5 separate regions of the Homo sapiens genome follow, and all the other regions are reported to be linked to region 2. The links are microRNA targets in miRTarBase. Many come from high-throughput screens and were not tested one by one. Region 2 holds a microRNA gene; each other region holds the end of a gene's coding sequence.
The links. The annotated mature microRNA hsa-miR-578 reads CUUCUUGUGCUCUAGGAUUGU and lies in region 2 at 1,560-1,580, opposite strand. An mRNA with a match to its seed (bases 2 to 7 or 8) in the 3' UTR can be bound and repressed. Matches are read on the target gene's strand: a 7mer-m8 pairs with bases 2 to 8, a 7mer-A1 pairs with bases 2 to 7 and ends in A, and an 8mer does both.

Region 1: the mRNA of TULP4 is a reported target of hsa-miR-578. Seed matches in the 3' UTR shown: 7mer-A1 at 2,249-2,255.
Region 3: miRTarBase lists LSM5 as a target of hsa-miR-578. Seed matches in the 3' UTR shown: 8mer at 329-336, 7mer-A1 at 1,431-1,437 and 8mer at 1,541-1,548.
Region 4: the mRNA of POF1B is a reported target of hsa-miR-578. Seed matches in the 3' UTR shown: 7mer-A1 at 4,157-4,163.
Region 5: miRTarBase lists RABGEF1 as a target of hsa-miR-578. Seed matches in the 3' UTR shown: 7mer-A1 at 3,754-3,760.

Annotation. Positions count from the first base shown.
Region 1 is chr6:158,505,998-158,511,105 of GRCh38, reverse strand. TULP4 (TUB like protein 4) reads right to left here. Exons shown (of 14, transcript NM_020245.5): 14 at 1-4,528. The coding sequence ends at 4,412. Among named protein-coding and RNA genes, the nearest start is that of TMEM181, 52 kb to the left of the region's middle. RefSeq lists an enhancer at 4,121-4,621.
Region 2 is chr4:165,382,774-165,387,881 of GRCh38, reverse strand. It overlaps MIR578 (microRNA 578), which reads right to left and starts at 1,640; the gene lies at 1,545-1,640. All of the region lies in intron 1 of CPE (carboxypeptidase E), which reads right to left.
Region 3 is chr7:32,482,436-32,487,543 of GRCh38, reverse strand. LSM5 (LSM5 homolog, U6 small nuclear RNA and mRNA degradation associated) reads left to right here. Exons shown (of 5, transcript NM_012322.3): 5 at 251-2,206. The coding sequence ends at 283. Among named protein-coding and RNA genes, the nearest start is that of LSM5, 5.4 kb to the left of the region's middle.
Region 4 is chrX:85,275,134-85,280,239 of GRCh38, forward strand. It overlaps POF1B (POF1B actin binding protein), which reads right to left. Exons shown (of 17, transcript NM_024921.4): 17 at 2,263-4,293. The coding sequence ends at 4,288. Among named protein-coding and RNA genes, the nearest start is that of ZNF711, 34 kb to the left of the region's middle.
Region 5 is chr7:66,808,288-66,813,395 of GRCh38, reverse strand. RABGEF1 (RAB guanine nucleotide exchange factor 1) reads right to left here. Exons shown (of 9, transcript NM_014504.3): 9 at 1,932-4,510. The coding sequence ends at 4,112. It also overlaps the pseudogene GTF2IRD1P1. Among named protein-coding and RNA genes, the nearest start is that of RABGEF1, 70 kb to the right of the region's middle.

The sequences.
Region 1 (5,108 bases), not on the chromosome of region 2:
ATGGAAACAAAGTAAGCCACAACCCATTAGAGTTTTATCAGCCAGAGGTAAGGAATCACACAAATGCTGAAGAGTTCTGAGTTGTGTGCTATTACAGAAATCCCAGGAACTCAAACGACATTTTGGACACATTTTTGTCTCCACTAACTTTGCTTACAACCATTGACTTGGCCAAATGATACAGGCACACAGCGACACCATGGACTCCTTCTCCAGTTGCTGGGCCAAACTTTCCTTTTCAAGAAACCTTTTCAATTTGAAGACCGTGTAACATGGCAGAGCACACTCAGGAATTTGAGGTGACCTAGGTATATATTCCTGTGGTTTTGGGGACAAGTAGTGACTTATTTCATGGCTGTTCTCATGGACATCCAGCTGAGCAGGGCACACCCGTGGAGACTCCTTCTTACCTAGAATCAGTACTTTTGTATATTCTATGAGAACAAACACAATTCCAAACACATTTAGAGGTGCACAAAAGATATTACTTTAAATGCACTGGTTTATATTCAGTACATAGCTCATTAACACAGGAAAAGAAATATTTCTCTACACAAAGGCAATGGTGTGAAATATATTTCCCATGAAAAGTGGAATGATGAGGCTGTTCAGTGCTGCGCTCTTAGGCTGAGAGCTGTAAGGGAGTTTAGAGGGCTGTCCAGGCTGATCCTTTCATTTCACAGATGGACAAGTGGAGGCCTAGCCAGCCCCAGGGACTTGCCCAAGGTCACCATCCAACCCTGTGGCAGAGCAGGCTTGACCCTGGGGTTTGCAGACTTTTTGCTATGATTACAAGATGAACATAACACATTCTTCCATGTCCTTGTGAGACACTTGACAAGGGAGCAATGGCTATGGATAAAAACACTAGCCTGTGAAATTCTTTGATTTATGCTGCCATTAGAGCTTTGAGATTTTCCTGCTTCTTTGGCCCCAATTTTTCTCAGGATATACATTCAATGGGTATATTGTACACAAATCTGTGCCTTTGGTTTGATGAGGTTAGAGCTAAAACAAATTTAGAATTGGTTATATTTGTTAATATATCACACTTCCCTCAAAAAGTCATAGATTCTTTATACAGTTAACCTTTTACTGGACTGCTTTTAAATTTAGGGATTCAATGAGGTATCTTGATATTCATAAACTATTAATAAACATTAAATTTTTAGAAATCTCCTGCATAAAGTATGAATTTTCGTCGTATTTAGTCAACAGAGACTGACTGAATGAAAGCATAGTTGAAAATAAGACCACCACTATTAACTGAAACGTCACACTACTAGGACCGCACAGCCCGCAGCTTGTGTCTGCCTTGGCGCAGGAGGGCAGCCCCTCTTTTCAGGCCCCTGGGTAGAGGGGAGGTGGGCAGTGGCTGCCGGGGTCACTCCGGTACAAACTCATACAAACTCACGTGCGCCAAACATCCGAGACAGAAGCCTGTGCCTCCATCGGGGGAAAGCGCCTTTGGGGGAGGGAGCTAGGCATTTAGAAGCTTAGTTAATTATTTGCTAAAAAAATCCATTTTTTTCTTCTCACATGTATTTGTAGCTTTCATTTCAAAGATTTTCCCCTATATTTGCTCTTATTAAACAGGTTCTAAAATGGGCTTTTTCAGGGTCTTTATATCTCAAAAACAATTAGAACACAAAAAGTGAAGCTTATTACCTAGTAACTCTTTCCTTGGCTACTCTCATTCTAATAGGTCTCCCCTTTTTATTTCAGATCAACTGTTATTTTCAGATAAAAATAAAATTTTCAAAAGAAGAGAATACTATTTGAGTGTTATCTCAAAAAAAAAGTCTCCTTTGTATATAATCAATAACACAAAATACAAAAAAAAATTTTTAAGTGATTAATAGGAATTTTTTCCCAATTAGAAAAGTTACAAATTATCCAGCAAAAAACCTTCTATGGGCCGGGAGTGGTGGCTCACGTCTGTAATCCCAGCACTTTGGGAGGCCGAGGCGGGCGGATCACCTGAGGTCAGGAGTTCAAGACCAGCCTGGCCAACATGGCAAAACCCCATCTCTATTAAAAATACAAAAACATTAGCCTGGCGTGTTGGCGGGTGTCTATAATCCCAGCTGCTTGGGAGGCTGAGGCAAAATAATCACCTGAACCCTGGAGTCAGAGGTTGTGGGGAGCCGAGATTGTGCCACTACACTCTAGTTGGGCGACAAGAGTGGGACTCCGTCTCAAAAAAAAAAAAAAAAAAAAAAAAAAACCTTCTATCATATCCTCTTTATTTCTTGCAGCAAAATATACTGTGACCATGTAAGTCGTTAACAAAGATACTATTTTTCTAAATAAATAAAATGGGTATAACTCACCAAAACGTAACAACAAAATAATTCCTAAGAACACTATGAAAAGCAAGATAAATAATTATCTCCTAAACGACAAAACAGGGGAATTGCATTTAGATTATCTAACAGGCTATAACCATTATTGCACAACCAATAAGCACTGAAACACCATATCAAGCTACATAAACTCATATAAAAGAATTAATTCTGATAACATTGCTGAATTCTTTCTGGAAGAATGCACCCACTAAAAATATCAGGTCCAATACGTTAAATATAAATGAGAAACTGGTATTAGATGGGAAATATCCTTTGCCACATCAGAAAACTTCGTCAGTATTTCTCTGGGGTTTGGAGAGAATTGGGAGTGATGTCATGTCATCTTGATCTGGGAAAAAAATGGGTCGGTTTCTTTTCCAATTTTTTAACTAAAACAGGGGATTAAAAAACGTTTAAATTTGAAAATACTTTTCTGTAGCATCTTCTACTTGTCTGTTTCCAAATAAAATGCAAATTTGGAACCCAACGCCAGCAGATAGTTCCTGTGCTCCTGCACAGCAGGCCCAGGAGAGGGGCCTGATCCTAAACAACATCACAGGTAAGACTGAGAAAAACAAAAACAAAAACAAAAAACAACAACAAAAAACAACAACAAAAAACACTGGGTTTTGTCATCAGGGCTTGAATACTGCCCACAGGTTCTCACGAGGACGAGGAAGTGGGAAGAGATATTCTAGGTAATTTTTTTTTATACAATTAACAAACTGTGATCAACCAACTACCTAGGTATTACAATTTTAATAACGTTTTCTCAGTGGTTTAGCTCCTTAGTAAACAGTCTGTACAGTTAATAAACAACTTTTTTTGTTAGAGAAGATCATGAAAATTTTGTCAAAGATTTGACCATACTCCTCTGTATTTTAATACCCTGGTGAACACTTAACATTTTTTTGGTTACATTTCTAATTTGATAGAAAGCATTTGTAGTCAACTGAATTTTAATGTAGCCAAGAGGAGAAAAGGAGTGGTTTCAAATCAAGCGTTGTCCACACTTTTAGAATGGGAAGGCATAGAACATGGTATCTCATGGGAAAGATCATGTTTACAGTAATGCATTCCAGATTAAAAAGTAAAAGGGGCAGAGAGAGTAGAGGCTGTTTCTCAGCATGTGAGGATCTAGTGACTGTCACCACATTATTTGAGAAAACTGCTACCACTACCACAGGCCAGGATCTTTCCATTTTTGTCTCTCACCTTCTCCCAGAACCAGTCATGCTGAATGACCATCACTGATCCTACGGAACTTTGACAAACGATGAAACTAGTGGAGGCTTTCAATGTAGACATCCTCAGCAGAGGAGTGTAGCCCTCGTACTGCTGCTACAAGTCACACGCTGAGTCACATTGCTGTCTGCAGAGTGATGTGAACCTGTGTATACGTGCAGTTTCTTCTTTACCCTTCGTCCCTTCCCCAACATCCTCAGTGAGCAAATCGCATTTCTACCTGGTGAGAACACCCCTGTAAAGAGCCTACTTTGTTGGTCCAACACAGTGTGTCTGCCCAAATGCCCTTTATTAATTAAGTCACCTTTTGGGGAGTAACATAATCAGTGTAAATCAAATGCTGTCCCCATCCCATTCCCCAAGAACCTGCATCTTGAGAATTTTTGGCTGTGTTTTGTAAAAGCTTTTTGCTTTTACGCTAGTGGTGATGTTGGAGGAGAATACAGGATAATGCATCCTCCCTATGTCTAAAAGAATAGCAGGCTCTAAGGCAGACTGTCTTCATTCTGAAGGGCCCAGTAGAGCATTACCACAGCCAAGCTGTTTCCTGAAAGAACAGCAGGTGCCTAGCACTCTTTGCTTCCAAATGCCACTGAAATGAAAGAAGAAAAGAAGAACAGACAATAAAAGGTAATAAAACCCAACCAAATAAATGACGACCACAGGTCAGCGCCCTCTCCTGGGCCTGCCGGGCTTTTCCAGTTTTGCTGTTGGCTTCTGGTCCTCCCAGGCATCGGACCCCTAGAGGGCTCCTCTGGCATCTCCGAAGACCTCTTCCAAAGGCTCTCTGCATCTCTCTCCTCCCCACACCAGTCTCTTCATTTGAGGCGCTGAGTCACGTTGGCCAGGGCAACTGCAAAGGCCTGCACGGCTGAGAACGGATACTGGAAGTCTAGAATGTACGCACTGCCATCAATCCGTCCAAACTGCATCACCTGGAGGAGGGCAGGGGAAGCAAAGACATTAAAGAATAAGGTGAAAAGGCCAGGCGCAGTGGCTCACGCCTGTAGTCCCAGCACTTTGGGAGGCCGAGGTGGGCAGATCACGACGTCAGGAGATAGAGACCACCCTGGCTAACACGGTGAAACCCCGTCTCTATTAAAAATACAAAAAATTAGCCGGGCGTGGTGGCGGGCGCCTGTAGTCCCAGCTACTCGGGAGGCTGAGGCAGGAGAATGGTGTAAACCTGGGAGGTGGAGCTTGCAGTGAGCTGAGATTGGGCCACTGCACTCCAGCCTGGGCGACAGAGGAGACTTCATCTCAAAAAAAAAAAAAAAAAAAAAAAAAAAAGAACAAGGCGAGCAAGGCGACAGCCGGGTCTGCATGGCTCCTTATGGAAGCAGACAGCACCGTCTATGAGATACTTTTGCTAACAAAAGTGACCCTGAATCTGGTGAAGCTTCTATATCTAACTCCAAGTTTGCAGGAAATAAGGGGACTGAGGAACATGTTAACACAATGGAGACAGTGAGCAAGGTTTGGAATGTGGGGACAATGGCCTCCAGCTCCATCCGT
Region 2 (5,108 bases):
GGGAGACCGAGGCGGGCAGATCCCCTGAGGTCAGAAGTTCAAGACAAGCCTGACCAACATGGAGGTCTTTTTGTTTTAACAGAGTCTCACTCTGCGCCCAGGCTGGAGTGCAGTGGTGCGATCTCGCTCACCACAACCTCCGCCTCCCAGGTTCAAGCGATTCTCCTGCCTCAGCCTCCTGAGTAGCTGGGATTACAGGCATGTGCCACCACGGCTGGCTAATTTTTGTATTTTTAGTAGAGACGGGGTTTCACCATGTTGGTCAGGCTGGTCTTGAACTCCCGACCTCGTGATCCACCCGCCTTGGCCTCCCAAAGTGCTAGGATTACAGGTGTGAGACACCACGCCCGGCCAGGAAGAGGTTTTTTAGCAACCTGAATTTAAGTTATATTTAGGCTTATTTAGAAAATAAACAATTTGCATCCATTTTAAAATAATGAGCCTTTGTTTGAAATGAAATGTCTTCAAATGAGGGGATTATTATAGAACTATGATGTTTAGCAATGATTTGATAGTAAAGAGATTTCTGTAGAAAACAAAATATTTACCAGTAGTGGAAAGTTGTTCCACGGTGTATTATCATAAGTAATTCATTTATCTTTGCTTAACAGCCATCTCTTTAATACTCCACATGTGCCACCCTACCCTTCAAAGATTACTCATCTAGGGACAGTTAAAGAAGTGGGTAAATCATTTGAAAATCATAAAAGACACTAGTAACACAAACAGGCTCTTCTCTTAGGCCATGTTTTATTAGAAAAAGCTGGCTGTTAGATCACTTACAAAACACCATATCCTGAATGTTCAAAGAAAGAGAAACGTTCACAGAGCAACGGACTCACGGCAATTCCAGTAATTAATGAGAAGGAAACAAAAGGGCAAATTTAAACATGTTTCAAATTTAAGTTCATTTGACCCATCACGTAGCTCGGATAAACCTCCTCCTCTGTGGCATTTCAAAGTGCACGATTTGAATACCATTTCATGAGAAAAAGGAAAATGAAAACCTGGAGATACATATCTTCTGTGTTAAAAACAAGCACACAGTTCTTAGTTTTCAACACTCAGGTCTCATGCAGAGTTTTTAAAGGTCAAAATTTTACTAAATAAATGCTTACCAATTATCTTTAAAATGTTTATTTAACACTTAAAAAGCAGCTTAACTTTCTAAGATGTCTGAAGACTCTTCTCTTCCAAAAGGAAGACAGCCCCTTACTAGTCCAGTTATATGAGACAACAAACACAGCAAGTTCAGCACTGAAACTTGAAAAGACATGTAATTCACATTGGTATATTTCTCCATTATGCAAAACTGGATTCAGTGCACACAAAAAATAAGCATATGCAAAAGAAAAGTACCATCTCTATCCTTTCTTGTTATCACACTACTGGCATGCTAATATGCATGATGTCAACATCGACCAACATGGCTTTGTTTTATGATATGCATTTTTGCCTATTTGAGAAATTTCATTTATTCAAACATATTCACTGAGTGGCCACTATGTCCCAAGCATAATACTAGACATTCAGGATTAAAAAATATATATAAACAAAATACAATCCTAGAGCACAAGAAGCTACAGGAGCTATAGGAGCTTCTTGTTGTCCGGGATTGTATTTTGTCTATAGATTTATCTGTAGACCAACAGTGGGAAATACCATAATGAGGTAATAATAATTGTTGCCACATATTGAATTAAGAACTTTATATTTACCACCTCATTTAATCATCACATTATTGTCATTTCATAGGTGATGAATTTGGGAGATAGAGAGAAGTTAATTGACTTGCCCAGGGACACTCAGCTAAAAATAAGAAGCCTCAGGATTTGAGCTCAAGTCCCCTGACATCAAAGTCCACACTGTAATTCTTTACAGCTCTCCAAAGAAATATGGAAGCATAAAGAAAGAGCCCCAGCAGGGGTAAGAAAGTTAGGGAGCGGGGAGAAAGGAGGTTTCAAAGAGCTTTTGCTTCTGCTGAGACTGTAAAAGACTAAGTTAGTCAGGACTGGAGCAGTTTCATCATAAATTCTTTAGGAAAATAAGTCAGATTGCCAATGAAAATGTTGATATTGCCGTAGATTTATTTGGCTACCTAAAGAAACAACCATAAAGACATTCTCAAATACTGATGCACACTTTGTTCCTATTGAGTGTCCTATTGAGTGACGCTTGCTTGATTCAAGCTTGCTTGATGATTATTGTTCATCATCATGTCAAACTGAAGAAAAGCAAGAATGTCCCACATTTTAAAATTGATAAAAGGCAAACAGGCAGGGTGTGGTGGCTCACATCTGTAGTCCAGCTATTCAAGAGGCTGAGGAGGGAGACACCTTGAGCCCTAGAGTTCAAGGCTGCAATGAGCCATGATCGTGCCACTTCACTCCAGCCTGGGTGACACAGCAAGACCCCATCTCAAAAAAAAAAAAAAAAAAGCAAACATTTGTGAACAAAAATAAAACAGTAAGAAGAGGGAAAAAGTCCTTCAGGGCTATCAACTAAGCCTGTGCAACAGCATCCTAAGAGGAAAGCATTTGGCAGGATTGGTGGAGGCAGATCTCACGTGACGATGCAGCCAAGAGTGCCTACTCTAAATGAGTGTAAAGGCCATGGAGCACAGTTTCCAGACCAACTGAAAGTAAAAAAAGAATATTTACAAATTAGCATTTCTTTTTAATAACCAGATGTAAGCAACTTCATTAAATGTGTTTCTATATACTACACTACTTTGGCCTCACAGCGATCCTGTGAGTTCTGTGTTCTTAACGTATTCCCTTGTCATACACAAGGAAAAGAGGTGAACAAAAGTAAAAAGCATGAAGCTATTTAACAATAAAAGAAGAATTGTGGTGCATTTGTCTAACTTTAATCATTTTCATCAAAATTATGTGTCCTTTTCAGCTCTGTAAGAGAGAGAAAAAAGCAAACAAACAAAATTATTTCTCCTCTGCCTCATTGCCTCAGAATCATGCTCTGATTCTAAGCAAAACTTAAAAGCCTACTCTACATAAACCACTACACTAGCTGTTTATGGAGGGAAAAAATGGAAAACATATGTTCCCTACCCCTGAAGAGCTCCCTGTATGAGGCCCTCTGCTGGAGAATTGCCAACTGAATCATTTTTTTCTTTGTTCTACATCCAGTCTCATGTGACAAATGAATCTTTAATACTATGATAAAGAATGATAATGGGCTAATGGAAGTGTAACACTACTTCCAAGATAAGCTCCCTTTTTTATTGTTGTTGTTGTTATTTTGTTTCTGAGATAGGGTCTCGCTCTGTCGCCCAGGCTGGAGTGCAGTGGTACAATCATGGCTCACTGTAGCCTCAAATTCCTGGGCTCAAGCGCCCTCCTAAGCCCCCCAAGTAGCTGGGACTACAGGCAAATGCTACCATGCCCAGCTAATTTTATTTTTTTGTAGAGACAGGATCTCATGATGTTGCCTAGGCAGATCTCAAACTCCTAGCCTTAAGCACTCCTCCTGCCTCAACCAGGTGTGAGCCACCAGCCAGCGGGAGAGGAGGAAATCCCATGGTAAAAGCCTGGGAAATCTTATACAGTACGAATCTAACTTGGAGATTTGAAACATACATTAGCCTATTAAGAGCTCTGTTAGGTCTTTCAATATACAAACCTGTTTATCTTTGTTTACATAATGCCTATCAAACCATGCTGAATATATGTTCTATGGAATATATTTTGAGAAAAGCTGGGTTAATGTGTCACCCGTTACAAGAGCTATTTTGTATTTCTTAATAATATTTAGAAATAGGATTTCGCCCCGTGGTAAGACGGTAAGGGAGTTACTAGCAAATGAGTCGTCTGCCACCTCTGAAATCAGTTGTCACAGAAAGCTGCCTCTTTTGTCTGAGCAAAGGCTATCATGTAGGGGCAAGCCCAACTTGCCTTCTCTTCCATTAACCAATTACAAGTCAATCAAGAACATCACTTCTGGCAAAAGCTGTGTTGACTCATTCAGGTCTAAAAATAACTCTTGACCATGTGTGGTAGGTCTAGATTCTTCTCTAGGATCTAACATCTATCTTCACGAATTTTAAGTTGTTACTTAGTTGTAACCATTTGCCACTAACACATACTAATCTGCTATAAAAAGACGCCATACAAATAATAAAAATCCCCACTTATTTTTTTCAAGTTGTGTGGAAACTTTGCCAGCATTAAATGTTCCATCACAATATTTGGCAAATTCATACTGGCATTTATACACTTTATATTTTAACAGATTCAGAGAGGAATACGTCCAAAATAATCATTCCAGCCTTTGAGAAAGAAAAATCCTGCTCTAAAGAATGTTTTTGAGATAGCGTTTTAGCTATAAATCAGATTTACTTCCCAAAAGCTATCTTGAACTACGTGTAAAAGAAATAGTGTTTTAAGCAAATTAATCTTAACTCATATTTAACTCCGGGTCGAGTGGTCTGGGAACACAGAATCCATTACTTAGACATAAGTTAATAAAGGTTTCTTTTATGAGTACTGTATTTCGATGATGGATATACATGCCTAGGAAGGCATATGTTTGGGTTTGAATACGTGAGTCCTTAAGCATGGAAATAAGAAAAAAGTATAAAATCTAAGTAAAAGGAAAGAAAAACGGGAAAAATGATCATGCCTAGCAGGTATGATATCTAATGGGGACATATTTGAGCACTTAGAATCAGCCCCTAGCCTAGTCTAAGCCCATTCTTCATCCCAGTTCCAAATGGGCCACAAACACTAACTCCCAGTGTAGAGGAAACCCATCTGGGGTCCAGACTTAACAATGTCTGAAAAGATGAGACCAATGACAGGACCATTTGTGATTCTGCTTATTGAAATTGGCTGCTACTCGCAACTCTCTTTCAATAGATTTTTGCAGACCTCAGAAGTGATACAAAATGATGACTGAGACCCAACATTCAGCTGGTCAACAATCAAGCTGATTCCTAAGATGTCATCACAGAATAGGTTTGGCTATTCCTCAATGACCAATTCAAAATGGAATTTGCTTTGCCTTTTGATGAATTCAAAAGTTGAACATCTTGCAAAGAAAGTCATTTTCAGGAGATAACCTCAACTACACCCCATGTCCTGTACCAAGCA
Region 3 (5,108 bases), not on the chromosome of region 2:
TCAGGGTCCTAAAGCTCAGCTATTGAAGAGGCATTGGGTCTAAAGGTTAGTTTGCTTGGAACTTTTAATCGCTGTTGAGATAGTAAGTATTAATTGATGACGTTGGGAATTGTAAATAGATACTGACAATCTGGAGAAAATGGGAACGTGGAGTGCAGGGGACAGGCAAAGGTGGCTTAATGAAGAGCAAGGGGTTTTTAGATGACATGGTGGTAGTGTTATTAATAAACTCTTTTTCCTCTTTATGCAGCTGGTTCCTGGAGGAGAAGGACCTGAAGTGTGAATGAGTTTCCTTGACTTACACTAGATTTTGTTTTGGCTTATAATGACAAGAAAATGGAATTTTTTTTCCCACTTTCTAATGTTTAAATCCCATAAAGCTAAGTTTCCCGTTAAAGGGAAGTGCTTTGAAGATGTGTACCCATTTTTGTAAGTTAATCATGATTATCCTGGAAAAAGAAGAAAAGAGCTTCTTCTTTGCAGATGAAAATAAAGGTGTTTTTGGTTAACTGTCATTTTGTTTATTCTACTGCAGTAGCCAGTGGAACAAAGTTTGTAGTTATTTTGCCACTTACTTTTCTGTCATTATATGCTTATTTGTTTTGTCATTTACGTGACCATTTGATTCTCAAACAAAAGTTGTTCCAAACAAAATGATGAACTTTGATTTGAACAGGTGCATTTAAACAACCGGAAATGATCACTTAGAAAATTCAATTAAAATGCTGTTGTTTTGTAATGAGGATTTTTCTTCTGATTTCAAATTCCATGAACTCCTATTGAAAACAAACAATGTACAGGTAATATATGCACATTGTAGAAATGCAGGAATTATCTATTGGAATTACCCTAAAGATAGAAATTTTATCTATTTGCTTATAAAATTGATTCAGAAGGTTATTACCTTAATGTAGTTATTACTGAATTGCCAGGAAATGAGTGGAGACAGAGCTTTAAGATAAAGGATACTAAAAGCAGCTAAGAACTCCAGGACTCAGGTCAAATCAAGGAACTGATAATAAGATCATTGAACTGTATAAATTAAGTCAAAGAACTCCTATTAAAAACAAACAGGTAATATATGCACATCGTAGAATTGTAGGTAAGCAAAAAGGAGAAGGTTGATCATGCTTTGCTGTATGTCTTCGTAGACTTTCTCAGTCCACTCTCAGTACACGTTTTATTTTACTTGCTCATCCTGATTATACTGTTTTTACCCTCCACTTAAGTCATTTTTTGAATTTAAATGGTGAATATCTTTCTGTGTCAAATATTTCAACATTAATATGTACATAGTATTAAATGGATTTACTATAAATTATTTAGCCTATTCTTACTGGCCACAGTAGTCTAACTAGATCTTTATACATTTGTATTTTTCTAGAATAAACTCAAAAATGTGTAAGATCAAAGGGTATATATTGTGTTGCCAAGAAAAAGTTTGTGCCAATGTATATTTTTGCCAGGAGTCTTTCATAGTACCATTTATATCCTTCCCAGCATTAGCTGTGTTCTACCTTCTCTCCTCTTTGCCATTTTTACAAGAAAACCGGGCATGTCTAAAGTTTTCTTTTCCTTTTTTTTTTTTTTTTTTTTTTTTTGGAGAGTCTCACTGGAATGCAGTGGCATGATCTTGGCTCCCTGCAACCTCCAGTCAGGCTGGTGTGCCTTGTCGCGATATCAACGCGACCTCCGCCTCCCAGGTTCAAGTGATTGTCCTGCCTCACCCTCCTGAGTAGCTGGGATTACAGGTGGGCGCCACCACTCCCATCTAATTTTTATATTTTTAGAGAGATGGGGTTTTACCTTGTTGGCCAGGCTGGTCTTGAACTCCTGACCTCTAGTGATCCACCTGCCTCAGCCTCCCAAAGTGCCGGTATTAAAGGCATGAGCCACCAGGCCTGGCCTAAAATTTTCTTGATTAATTTTGATCTCATTTGTATTTTGTAAATGACTTATCTGTTGAGGCTTTTGCCATTGAGATGTTTGTCTTTTTCTTACTAATTTGTAAGAATTCTTGATGGGTTTCTGTTAGTCATGTATTTTGCTAATAATTTCCCTAGTTTGTAGTTTGCCACTTAGTGCTATTTTTGACATAAATGATGTATTTTAATGTAGTTGCATGTTGACCTAGTCCATTATGGTTTTTGTATTTGGTCCACGTGGATTGGAAAACCTTTGCTTTGATTATACTTTTCTTTGGGCACTTTATGTTTTCTGCGTTTGATTTAAATCTGGAATCTATCTGGAATTTTGGTATTACCACATGGAAAAAGGATCCAACCTTATTTTCCAAAACACAAAGCACTGATTTGTAGTTTTCTCTGATTTACATGTTGTCAGTACTACTGCCTTGGCTAATTTCAAGCTACCAAGGCTTTAACAACTGGTTTGCAAAATTCTCAAGGATTTGACAGTTGATTCTCAGGAGCCAGTATGAGCTGGTTGCCTCACACTTTGCTTCTAACTCTTGGGGGCAATGCTTTCCCTCCACTGTTGTTTCTTTCCCTTTGGAGGGGAGTAAGTGATGTAACACCTGCTTCTTTCCACCCCTTTATTATTTGCTATCCCAGGGGAGCTAATAGTCATACCCAAGCTCTTCCTTTTTTCATCATAGGAGTTAGGCCAGGTGCAGTGGCTCATGTCTGTAATCCCAGTGCTACATTGTAGGTGGTCGAGGTGGAAGGATAGATTGAGGCCAGGAGTTGGAGACCAGCCTGGGTAATATAGTGAGACCCCATCTCTACCAAAAATTTTAAAAAATTAGTGAGGTGTGGTAGTGTGCATGCACCTGTAGTCCTACGTAGTTGGGAGGCTGAGGCAGGAGAATTGCTTGAGCCCAGGAGTTTGAGATTTCAGTAAGCTATGATTGCACCACTGTACTCCAGCCTGGGTGACAGTGAGACCCCGTCTCAAAACCTACAATGAAACGCCATTTCATGGGTGCTATAGAATGGCTATAATTATAAAAAATTATTGTAACAAGAATTGTACAAAAATTAATGTAACAAGTATTGGCTGGGATATGAAGAAATTGGAGCCCTAGTACCTTGCTGGTGCGAATGTAAAATGATGCATGCACTGTGGAAAATAATTTGATGATTCCTCAAAAAGTTAAACAATTACCATACGACCCTGCAACTCCTCTCCTCAGTTCATACCCAAGAGAACTAAAAACATGTCTGCACAAAAACTTGTATGAACATTCACGGCAGCATTATTCCTAATGTCTCAAAGTGGAAGCAACCCAAATGTCCATCGATGGATGGATGGATAACTGAAATGCGATATATTCATACAATAGAATATTATCTGTTAAAATGAATGAAGTACTTGTGTATGCTACAGTGTGGATGAACTGTAACATTATGCTAAGTGAAAGAAGCCAGACACAAAAGACCACATATTTGATTTATATGATCCAGAACAGGCAAATTCACAGAAATAGACAACTATACTAGTGACTGCTAATGGGTATGGGTTTGTTTTTTGGGGTGATGAAAAAGTTCTGGGATTAGATGGTTGCACAACCTTGTGAATATACTAAAAAGCACTGAATTATAACCTTAAAAGAGTGGATTTCATGTTACATGAATTACATCTCAATTTTTAAAAAGTGATGTATCTGAGGCATATCTAGTGTAACTTCTGAGGCCCTAAAGAAATTACTTTCCCATGAGTAACAGCTTGGGTTGTGGCTGCTGAAAGGACTTTAACCACCTAAGCATCAAACCCCCTTCTGGTTAAGACTGAACAGAATAAGGATTTGGGAAAGGTTGTTTTGGGCATTTAACTTAAGAATGTTGGACATTTTTTGTTTGTTTTGAGACAAGGTCTTGCTCTGTCACCCAGGCTAGAGTGCAGTGGTGTGATCAGTGCTCACTGCAGCTTCGAACCACTGGGATCAAGCGATTCTCCCCCCTTAGCCTCCCAAGTAGCTGGATCCACAGGCAGGTGCCACCATGCCCAGCTATCTTTTCTCTTTTTGTTTTTTTAAAGATAGGGTCTCGGTCTGTCACCCAGACTGGAGTGCAGTGGTCATGGCTCACTGTAGCCTCGACTTCTCGGGCTCAGGTGATCCTCCCACACTACAGGTGCACACCACCACACCTGGTTAATTTTTTGTGTTTTTGATAGAGACTGGGTCTTGTCATATTGCCCAGGCTGGTCTCAAACTCTGGGCTCAAGCGATCAACTCGCCTTGGCCTCCCAAAGTGCTGGGATTACAGTTGTGAGCCACCGTGCCTGGCCTAATTTTTTAATATTTTGTAGAGACAGGGTGTCACCATGTTGCCTAGGCTGGTTGATTCTTAACTTACAAAAATAAGGGTATTTAGTTTTGGATTTTAATTCTAGTGGAGTTTAACATTTTTGGACTTTGATTTGGAAGGAGGTTTAATTTTTGAATTCCAGTAAATTTGATAATGGCACAGGATTATATGTAGATTTGGGCATCTCTGTTGTTGGCATTTTATTATTGGGTGTTGGTGTGCTGATATGCCAGGTTAGACCATTTATTAGTTGGGGTTCTCCAGAGATGACCAATAGTATATGTATATAGATATATAAGGGGATTTATTAGGAGAATTGGTTCATGCGATTATGGAGGCTGGGAAGCCCCAAAACAGGCTGTCTGCAAGCTGGAGACCTTGATGTGGCTCAGTCCAAGTCCAAAGACCTCAGAGCTTGGGATGCTCATGATAAAATTCTCAGTCTGAGGCTGAAGGCCTGAGAACCCAGGGGGCTACTGGTGTAAGTCCTGGAGTCCAGAGGTCTCCTAAAGTTGGGATCACTCTTCCTTCTCTGTCCTCAGAGGACAACATCATCAGAACATCAGGAGTTCTTATATCCAAAGACAGAGAAGGAAGAGTTATCCCCGCTCTAGGAGGGAGACAGACATGTTGCCTTTTCTGTGTTGTTCTCTTTGGACCTTCTGTCAACTGAATGCTGGCCCACATTGAAGGTGTATCTCACCTAGTCCACTCAGACTCACACCCTAAAGTAGTCTGGAAACACCCTCATAAACACAGCCAAATAATGCTTTACTAGGTTTCTAGATATCCTTAATCCAGTTAACTTGACACCTAAAATTAGCCATCACAGATCAT
Region 4 (5,106 bases), not on the chromosome of region 2:
AATCCCAGACATATTTGCAACAATTTTTGAAGGATATAGCACAATTCTTGACATGCCTACTTCCAAGGGGGAAATGACTCGTCCTCTATGAAGGCAGAGGAACAAAATAATCATCTCATTTAACTCTTTCAACTTCCCCTTGTGAGAACCAAGAAAAAGCTGACTAGGCTTGGAATTATATACAGTACGATTTTTTTGAACTAATAAGGCTTTAGAGAAGCTGCAGGGCTAGATTAGAACCCTAGAATATAATTGGTTTGAGACCATTCCCAATCTCCCAACTTTGTTCAGCTCCACCCTGTCTTTCCAAAAGAATTATAACTTGTAAATTTGGAACTGATTGAGAAAGATCTCTTAGAGTCTTGGATCCTGGATAAGAACTGGATATTGTTATGAGGGGTCTTTAGATTCCTAAAGGTCCTGCAGAAGAAATTGGCCAATTTGTAACTTCAAGGGTATAGCACTAGATGTCTTAAACTAAAAATGTGTCGCTTGCCTGTTTCAGTTATGCCTTTCTCTTTGAGCATTACCCAAGTAACTACCCCAAAGGGAACTCTCCTCCATTTTAAAATCTGGACCAATTGACAATATTGACACTATCTCATTTAACCTATAATGTAAGTCCTAGTCACTCCCATCTGATTCCAAAACCCTCTTATCCTAGATTCCAGCACCATTCACCCATCATGACAAGGCTGGCTCATCAGACCCTTTTAGGGAACTAGAACAAAAAGCCTATATTTTCTCCCATTTAAAGAAATTCATCTGTCTTATTGGATCTTGGTACATATGATTTATAAGTATTCAACACTGTTAGCAAACAAACTACAGAATCAAAGCATTACATTGGAAGCACTGTTCCTTAACATAAAGGATCTCTGGAACATATACTTCAATTTGAAAAAGAATTTTTTTAATGTGGTAGGATGGGAAACCAAACATAAAGGCTATGAACTTAACAACATCTCATTGTCTGTGTCAGGCCAATCTAAGATTACCAAGACTGCCTAGCTATCTAATTTTCTCATAAAACAATTCTGAGGTATGTCTTCTTCAGGACTAAATATTGTTAAATGTTTTATTAAGAAAGATGCGCTTGTTTATTACTTCCTTTATTTAAATGTTTTCTATGTACTATTTCATATATCCTAAGTTGTGCATGAAATACTTTGTATTTTTTTAACTGGACAAAAAGTACTATGGAAATCCAGTCAATTTAGTTTTGGCATGTGGTGGGGAAGATGTACCTCATAAGGAAACCTTTTCACAACATATTATTTACTTTCAAAATAATTATTTTCAAAAGAAACATGTCATCTTTGTAGATTGCAATAATGGGAAATGTGTGATGATGGCTTTTTGTTAAGGTGATCTAAATTGGGTAGTGAGATGGAAAGTTTTTTAAAGCTTTATTTTGTTCCTTTTGTACTGTCTATGTTAAGAAGGAGTAAGGCAACAAAAGCACCATTACAAGGATGGGAAGAATGCTTTATGGAACAAGTGAGTTATGGAACTTAGAAATCTAAGTTTGAAAGCAAAGAAATTCTAATTTAAAGAAGAAACTTGCTTCAACTGGAGGTTGAACTATGTTAAAGTAGTCCACATAAGGAAGTTTTCTGCTTTTGTTTTGTTTTTAATGAGAGTGATGCTTGTTAGCTCCAACATAAACATTCACATGATGATAATTTCCTGACAAAAATATACAGCTAAGCTAAAAATCCTTCTGCATATTTCCTACTTGGACTTTCACACAAACCATGTAAATACTTCACATATTTTATTTAGACACATAAACAGATTACTTTGCATGTCATTGCGCAGTCTCCATTTTATGTGACAAATCTAAAGTGAAAACATACTGGAATAGAAATTAGATAAATAGGCACTCCTCACCTGACAACTTTGAAGTTTTCAGAGATAAGCAGTGTGAAACTTATGAGAGGGAAATATATCACTACTACCTCTATTGATCTTAATCACAAATTGGAAAAGAAATACATATATTTAAATAGTCATTTAAATATATAGAACAGCTCTTTATATCATCACATTTTGTATTACAATTTAAAAAATTGTTAAGTATGATAAGGACGTTGTTATGACCCCAATTCACTATCCATGGATCAAGTGAGCCAATAAAGTGCTGGCTTCTTACTTTTTAAAATCTTTGTGGATATATAATAGGTGTATATATTTATGAGATACATGAGATATTTTGATACAGGCATGCAATGTGAAATAATCACATCATGGAGAATTGGGTATCCATCCACTCAAGTATTTATTTGTGTTACAAACAATCCAATTATACTCTTAGTTATTTGTACAATTAAGCTATTATTGACTATACTCACCCGGTTGTGCTATCAAATACTAGGTCTTATTTATACTTTCTAACTACATAGTTTTTGTACACATTAAGCATCCCCAGTTCCCCTCGCACACCCCTTTTCCCAGCCACTAGTAACCATCCTTCTACTCTCTATATCCATGAGTTCAATTGTTTTGACTTTTAGATCCCGCAAATAATTGAGAACATGCAATGTTTGTCTGTTTCTGGCTTATGTCACTTAATATAGTGACCTCTAGTTCCATCCATGACTCCTTAACTGCCCCTGAATTTTTGACACTATTATTTTTAAGTATTTTGGAAAACTCACACCTGTTCTCATTTTTAAACCTTAATAATAACAATTTCCTACTAAGCTAATAAAACTTCCCCTTATATTATTTGTAATGTGTGCATAACATAGTACACTTTTGTTACAGTTACATATATGAATAGTTAGCAGAGGAGAAACTCCTCCGTTGTTCCTACACCAAGGGAAAAAATGTAAGGACTGTATAGCTCATGAATAATATTAACATTTTTCTATCACAAAATATTGATAAAATTGGAATTGTATCAATTCATGTTATGGAGCTTAACATTTTAGCCGAAATATTAAGATAATATAAATAAGGCTTTTAGCTTCATATCAAGACCTATTTGAACACTTCTAGAAAAGAACATTAAAAGTTTTTTCCTCATTTATGGTTTGATTTAGTGTAGTGCCTCAACTGTTCTTAATGGTGTCTTAGTATAATGCATAATTATTAGAATATAATTATAAGGCATTACAGAATTTTATGTGGATACTTGCAAAGATATTTCAGTCCAAAACTTCAAATTACACACCCAAATATGTTTGTTGCCTTAATCTATACTTGGACAAAGGCAACATTTTAATTTTTGCTAAGTCTTAACTTTAGCCAGATGGGTTGAAATGTAAAATTTTCATCCTCATCTTGCATTGAAAAAATACTTGTGTTCAGTTATGTTCACTTTGTAAGGTCATTAAAGCCTAATTGCTAAATCAACTTCTAAGTATACTAAATACTCTGCTACAAAATATTTCTCCCAAGTAGGATAAATCTATCAAGTATTTGTTGCTGCTATTTTTATTCCCTAAGTCTTTATATCTATGTAATATTTCAATGATATGTTTGCATACCACTATGAAAAAACTTACCTTCCTTACACCTACTACTACCACATTGTGTTATATGTTTTTTAAGAAGTAGGTAGGCTCATTTGGGGAAGGTATGCTTTGAAAGAACAGATTTGCCAAGGGACTAATATGTACTTAGAACCAGAATAGCATACTGTATAATTTAGTGGACTTAGTTATTTCAAAAGATATTATTCCACTTCCCTGCTAAATGAAATTAATCATCACCTTTGACTTTCAAGAGGTGAAAATAGCGTGTAATAAAGCATATCTTTTAGTCATCAGGCCTACTGTGAAAAGCAAATACAGACTGTATATATTATATACTAGCTGTTATTTTTTGCTTCAATTGTATTTTATCTCTTTTGTTAAAAAAACATGATTTCATCTTGTAACTGAACTGCACATATAATATCAGAGAAAATCTTCTAATGGCATGACTTGTAAAATCTCTACCCCAACAAATTAGTTTGATATCTAGGAGTTACCTTATCTGAAACATAATGAGTTATGTTCTACAGTGTCTGCAATCAAACTTTAAACAATCAGGTCCCTCTTTCAGTTAGTATGTTGTTATACTGAATACATGAGTGTTATGGAAAAGATTTAGGTCTCATAAATGGGTGAAGAAATTGTCATCTACAGAACTAATTCATTCCATTAGATTTCTTGGGTAGCAGCATGGTTCCAAATTCTGATTGGCCTTTAGTGATGGAAAAATAACAAAGTACTAATGCAGAGACACACACACAAAAAAAAAACGGCTTTGAGTTGTAATACTTTAAAGTGGATCCATTCATGGCTAGAAAAGAAAAAAAAAGGTTATCTTACAACTGGTTCATAATTAAAGTCATTGTTACTATATGCAAAGTTATGGAAAATTATTTAAATTGGTATGTATAAAACCAAAGGACATGTATTGCACTTTTGTGGCACTCTTTTATATATATATATTCAATGAAACAATGATTTGTCTTTCTTACTTTACTCATGGTATGTTTCAAATGACTTTAAGCAAGAGTGAAGGACAATTAAGTAGATTTCCTTCTTAGTAATATTTAGAGTTTAAATATGTCCAATTGTCTCTTAATAAATATGGATTTTCATCTGTGAATGCATTTAAATATATTCTGACCTTGCTATCAGTATCTATAGATTCTTCAAATATCAATTTTGATTTTTACTGCTGCACATTTTTAATGGAGAGAGAAGTAGTGGCTACTATTCTGTAGAAACTTTATTTGGCAGGTCTTCATATTGCCACCTCTGGGATACATGTGGTTAGGGTTAGTGGCAGCAATTGCTTCTCAGTCTTAACTTTGGGCATCAAATTATCTTTGAGTGGCCAATTTTAAATTCTATGGGTTAATAATTAGTAGTAAGTAATTTTCAGCTAACTAATGACCTAACAAAAACAACATTTCAGAGTTTAAATGCAGTTATTTTTACTTTGGGATTACTAAACATTGGTTGTTTTCATTGATGATAACAACCATACTTAAAAGATTGATGGCTGGATTGTAGTTAAAGAAGGGCTTCAGCTCTAAAGAAACTTTTTGAATTTTTTTGTTGACTCAAATATTTGAGCTTGTTCAACCAAAAGATGTTTCTAGAA
Region 5 (5,108 bases), not on the chromosome of region 2:
ACCACAGAAGAGGGTGGAGAGGACAGGAACAAACACTTCATTCTCACCTGGCAGGGCTGGAAGTTCAGTCTCCACCCATCCTCTACTGACACTGTGGAGAAAGGGAAGTGCCCTACACTTCCAAAAGCAGGGGGAGGAGTTTCAGGTTCCCCATTCAACCTTTTTAACACACTGAGGAACCTGTGGGCAAAAACTTAAGTATAAATTTCTTTTTTCGGTGGGGTGGGGCACGGAGGCTCATGCTGGTAATCCCAGCACATTAGGAAGCCAAGGTGGGAGAATTGCTTGAGCCCAAGAGTTTAAAACAAGCCTGGACAGCTGGGCGCGGTGGCTCACGCCTGTATTCCCAGCGCTTCAGGAGGCCGAGGCAGGTGGATCACGAGGTCAGGAGATCAAGACCATCCTGGCTAACACAGTGAAACCCCATCTCTACTAAAAATACAAAAAATTAGCTGGGCATGGTGGCACGCACCTGTAGTCCCAGCTACTTGGGAGGCTGAGACAGGAAAATCACTTGAACCCAGAAGGTGGAGATTGCAGTGAGCCAAGATCACACGACTGCACTCCAGCCTGAGTGACAGAGCAAGGCTCCATCTCAAAAAAAAAAAAAAAAAAGATCAGCCAGGACAACATAGTGAGATTCGTCTCCATAAAAAATTTAAATATTAGCTGGGTACAGTGGCACACACATGTAGTCCCAGCTACTCAGGTGGCTGAGACGAGAGGCTAGCTTGAGCCCAGGAGGTCCAGGCTGCAGTAAGTCATGTTCACACCACTGCACTCCACAGCCTGGGTTACGGAGCCAGACCCTATACCCCCCAGCCCAAAGAAAAACAAAAACAAAAAAGAAGAATTTCACGATGGCAGCTACAGAGCCCTAAAGTCCAAGCACAGGGCCCTTTGCAGTCACACCTTTGTGCTTCTCACTCAATTTTCTGTTTTTCGTATCGATCCTGAAAGCTCTTGTTCTCTGTAGGTGATTTATATTTGTTTCTATTGTAAATTGATTTTTTTCTCCACAATGTTTGCTAAGTGGTTAGTAATGGTATATAGGAAAATCATTTTGTACAGTTAGCTTTTATCGCTATTTTAGAATTTTCATCTTTCACTAATATAGAGATGAAATTCTATAGTTTCAATATAAATTCTCTTGGGTTTTCTTTTTTTACATTTCTGTTTTTCAAGACAGGGTCTCACTCAGGCTAGCATGCAATGGTGAGATCACAGCTCACTGCCACCTCAAATTCCTGGGCTTAGGTGATCTTCCCACCTTAGCCTCCCCAGTAGCTGGGACTACAGGTACACACCACCATGCCCAGCTAGTGTTTTTTTTTTTTGTAGAGATGTGGGTCTCACTATGTTGCTGACATTGCTCTCAAACTCCTGGCCTCAAGCATTCCTCCTGCCTTGCCTCCAAAAGCGATTACAGGCGTGAGCCACAACACCCAGCCTTCTCTTGGGTTTTCTACATAAAATAACCATCTACAAATAATAGCTATCATTTGTTCTAAGTTCAGACAACAACCCCATGAAGCAGTAATATTATTAACCCCATTTCACAGCTGAGGGATCTGAAACAAGAGATTTGTTCAGGGCCAATGAGCTAATAAGTAGCAGAATAAAATTCAAAACCAAATCCAAGCCTTCCAGCTTCAGAGTTCATGTCCTCACCAACAGACAATAATAGCTCTATATTGATTACATTAACTCCTTTTTTCTCTACTTTTATGTCTGTTTGAAGACTGAGTACCTTGGTAGAACTGCAAGAACAAGGTTGATTGATTGTGGTGACAGCAAATATTCTTGTCTTCTTAATTTTAACTGACAAATGTCTCTAATGTTTCATTTTTAGGTATAGCTTAACCAGAAAACCTCTGTAGCATGAGAATATTAATAATAATGTATATTTTCCTAAGAAAGAACCAAATCAATTTTTGGAAGAGGGACGGATTGTGAAACTTTATTGATAAAGAATTCCGTTCCAAAGGTGTATTCCAGTCACATTTACCCTACATAAAATACCAACATCTTCTTATTGCAAAAACAGAAACTCCGGCCGTTGTATTGATGCTGACTTAAGAGAAATAGAAGCCTCTATATAAGGCAAGAGTCCATACCAGAAGAATTCGACCAATATGAGATACCTCCAAAAAAATCAACTCAATAACCTACTTTATATGTAAGAGACCCAAAAAAGTCAGCTTTTGTGGGAAGTTGATATGCAGTTTATTGAACAAACAGAGTGTACAGTAACTAAACGAACTGTGTATTTCCAAAGGAATTAAGACCGCATATCTGGATTCACACCTAAAAGCACATAGAAAATTAAACCAAAGAAGGGCAAGTTTTGTACTAAAATCACTTGGGCCCAGGTTATTCTATAAGAAGATTCTCACTGGCATTTGATAGTAACTTATCACCTTCTGTGCGAGCTTGGGAACCAGCTGACTCAGTGAACTGCTTCCTGTCTTCAGTGCGTGATGACACAGATGTGTCAAGCTTAATAGATCTTATATGTAAATTTAAGAATAAGAAGTTTTATACCCACCCTGGTTTTATTCCAAAGTTACTGCTCTGCAATTTTGGGCTCCATCCTTAGGAAGATACTGGAAAAGCAAGAGAACCTTTCTCAGCTGCCTGTGTGAAGTGACGTTGTTCTAGAACGGTGCCCTGGGGCCTCATGCACGATTTCACAAGTATAGCTGCATAATCTGTGGATGTCACTGAATGGAAGAAGAATCATCAATGGTATATTTAGGTTATAGAAGGTTCCACTGAGATAAGAAAAGGTTCTACAATGCAGGTAGCTGTCAAGCCTCCTAAATATTTAACTCGTTTTAGTTAACATCACACTGTGCATTGAGTGCAAGATTCTTTGGTTACACCATATTAACCACCAGGAGGATAACTCCTGGTTTGTAAAAGACATCAGTGGTTCTTAACGGAGGGGTGATATGGCCCCAGGAGACATCTGACTATGTCTGGAGAGAATTTTTCACAGCTCTAGCGGGGGTGCTACTGGCACCTAATGGATATGGATGGCAGGAATGCTGCTGAACATTCTACCATGCACAGGGTGGCCCCACAACAAACACCTCTCAGGCCACTAATATGAATAGTCCCGAGGTTGAAATGTCCTGAAAAAGGTTCAGAAAACATGTCTAGACGTTTGCAAAGTCAAATGTATATTATGGAGGCTGCAAGGCGCCCCTTGCATCTCACAGCTGAGGGACCCCGTCACCTCTCACCATCAGAGGCCCATTCATTCCCGCCTTCCATTCCAGGCCCAGTGCCTGCTCCTTCTCACTGAAGAACTCAATAGAGATTTGCTGAATGAATGAGGGAAAAATAAGCTAGAAGCATAGTTTAAAGTCTTCCATCGACTACATTAAACAGCAATTTTATGTGGCCTAAACTTTATTCTGAACCTTAGTGGTGTCATAGTCTCTGACTATATAGAACCTCAAAGTTAAGGCTAACACGTTCTTAAAGATGGAGTGCACATCTTAAGGGGAGTTTGTCTAAACACTTCTCGAGTCATTTTAGTGGGACAAACCAAATAAAATGGTGCTAAAGGCAAACATTCAATATACTTCATTTTAAACTAAAAAATTAACATATAAAATGCCATGCACAGCAGACACCATTCTTTTTTTTACATATTTACAATTTTACATATTTACTTATCAATATAATTTCTATCTTTACAATTATAAAATTATTCCAAACTGTGGAAGAGTGGTACCATTTAATTTTCTTGAACATACACTTTGTAGCATTCATTTGTTTAATCCTTTAAAAGGCAATTATTTACCAAAACCACAGTGAATGCCAGAGGAAGCACATAGGAAAATCATGGAGGGAAAAAAGATTGAGACAAAATTTGCACACAAGCCTTAAATGAATCTGTATCAGTAACTCAAATAAGTAGTATTTTATTATTAACTAAGGTTCCCCTGCTAGGAAAAACGAAACAATCCCCATATACTGTACCTTTAAAAAATGCTGACATTTATAAGCAATTTAGTTACATTCTAGATCCCAATCAGTTGAGTGTAGTAAGGGCTACCTACAATTTAGGCTCAAATAAATACTCTCCACTAAATTGTGATCATCCTGCATAAACTTGAGGTTGCAGTGGTGGAGGAAGTTTATCATTTTCAACGTTTTCAGAGTCAATAGCTGCTAACGGTTGATTCGGAGGCTTAATTTCCAGTGGGTATTTCTCAACGATGTCTTGAACTTCTCTTGCAATTCCATCTGTCCAATCTATGAGGTCTTTTTCCAGTTTCTTGGCTTCATTCATGATCCTTTCTTGTCGTTCATTCAACTGAGACAAGAGATCCAAGTTCTTATACATTTGCTTGACGCCTAAGCAAGCATCAGGAGACCAACTCTCAGCTTCTTGCTTCCTGGGAGAGGTCTGGCCAGACATGTAGCGATCAAAATCCTCCTGACTTAGATTCAAAGACTGGGCGTCTAGCTTCTCAATGAAAGCCACAGCACAGCACTACAAGAAGAGGACGTTAATACAGTCATATTAGGAAAGCTATGCATACTCGAGTCGATTTGTAAAAATCTTTTGATCACAGACCATTTAAAACAGAAGCTAAAGTAAACAAAACAAACTCATGAACTTCTGTGTATTTCAGCCTCAAAAATTACCTACTCCTATCCCCGGTCGTGCTTCCTATACACTCCCAGGAGCTCCAGGGCCGATGTCTGGGTGCAGCCTCCCCAGGTGCACCATGAAGCCATTCTGTCTGAGTCTTCCCAGACCTGCTATCCCCACCCAGGATATAGTCCCCAAGTAGGTGTGGCACACAGACCTCTGATCCTCAAATGAATATTTTAACATCAAGTGGTTAAAAGAACAGCTCCAGACCGGGCCCGGTGCCTCAAGCCTGTAATCCCAGCACTTTGGGAGGCTGGGACGTGTGGATCATGAGGTCAGGAGTTTGAGACCAGCCTGGCCAACATGGTGAAACCCCATCTCTACTAAAAATACAAAAATTAGCTGGGCGCAGTTGTGGGCGCCTGTAATCCCCGCTACCTGGGAGACTGAGGCAGGAGAATTGCTTGAACCTGGGAGGCGGAGGTTGCAGTGA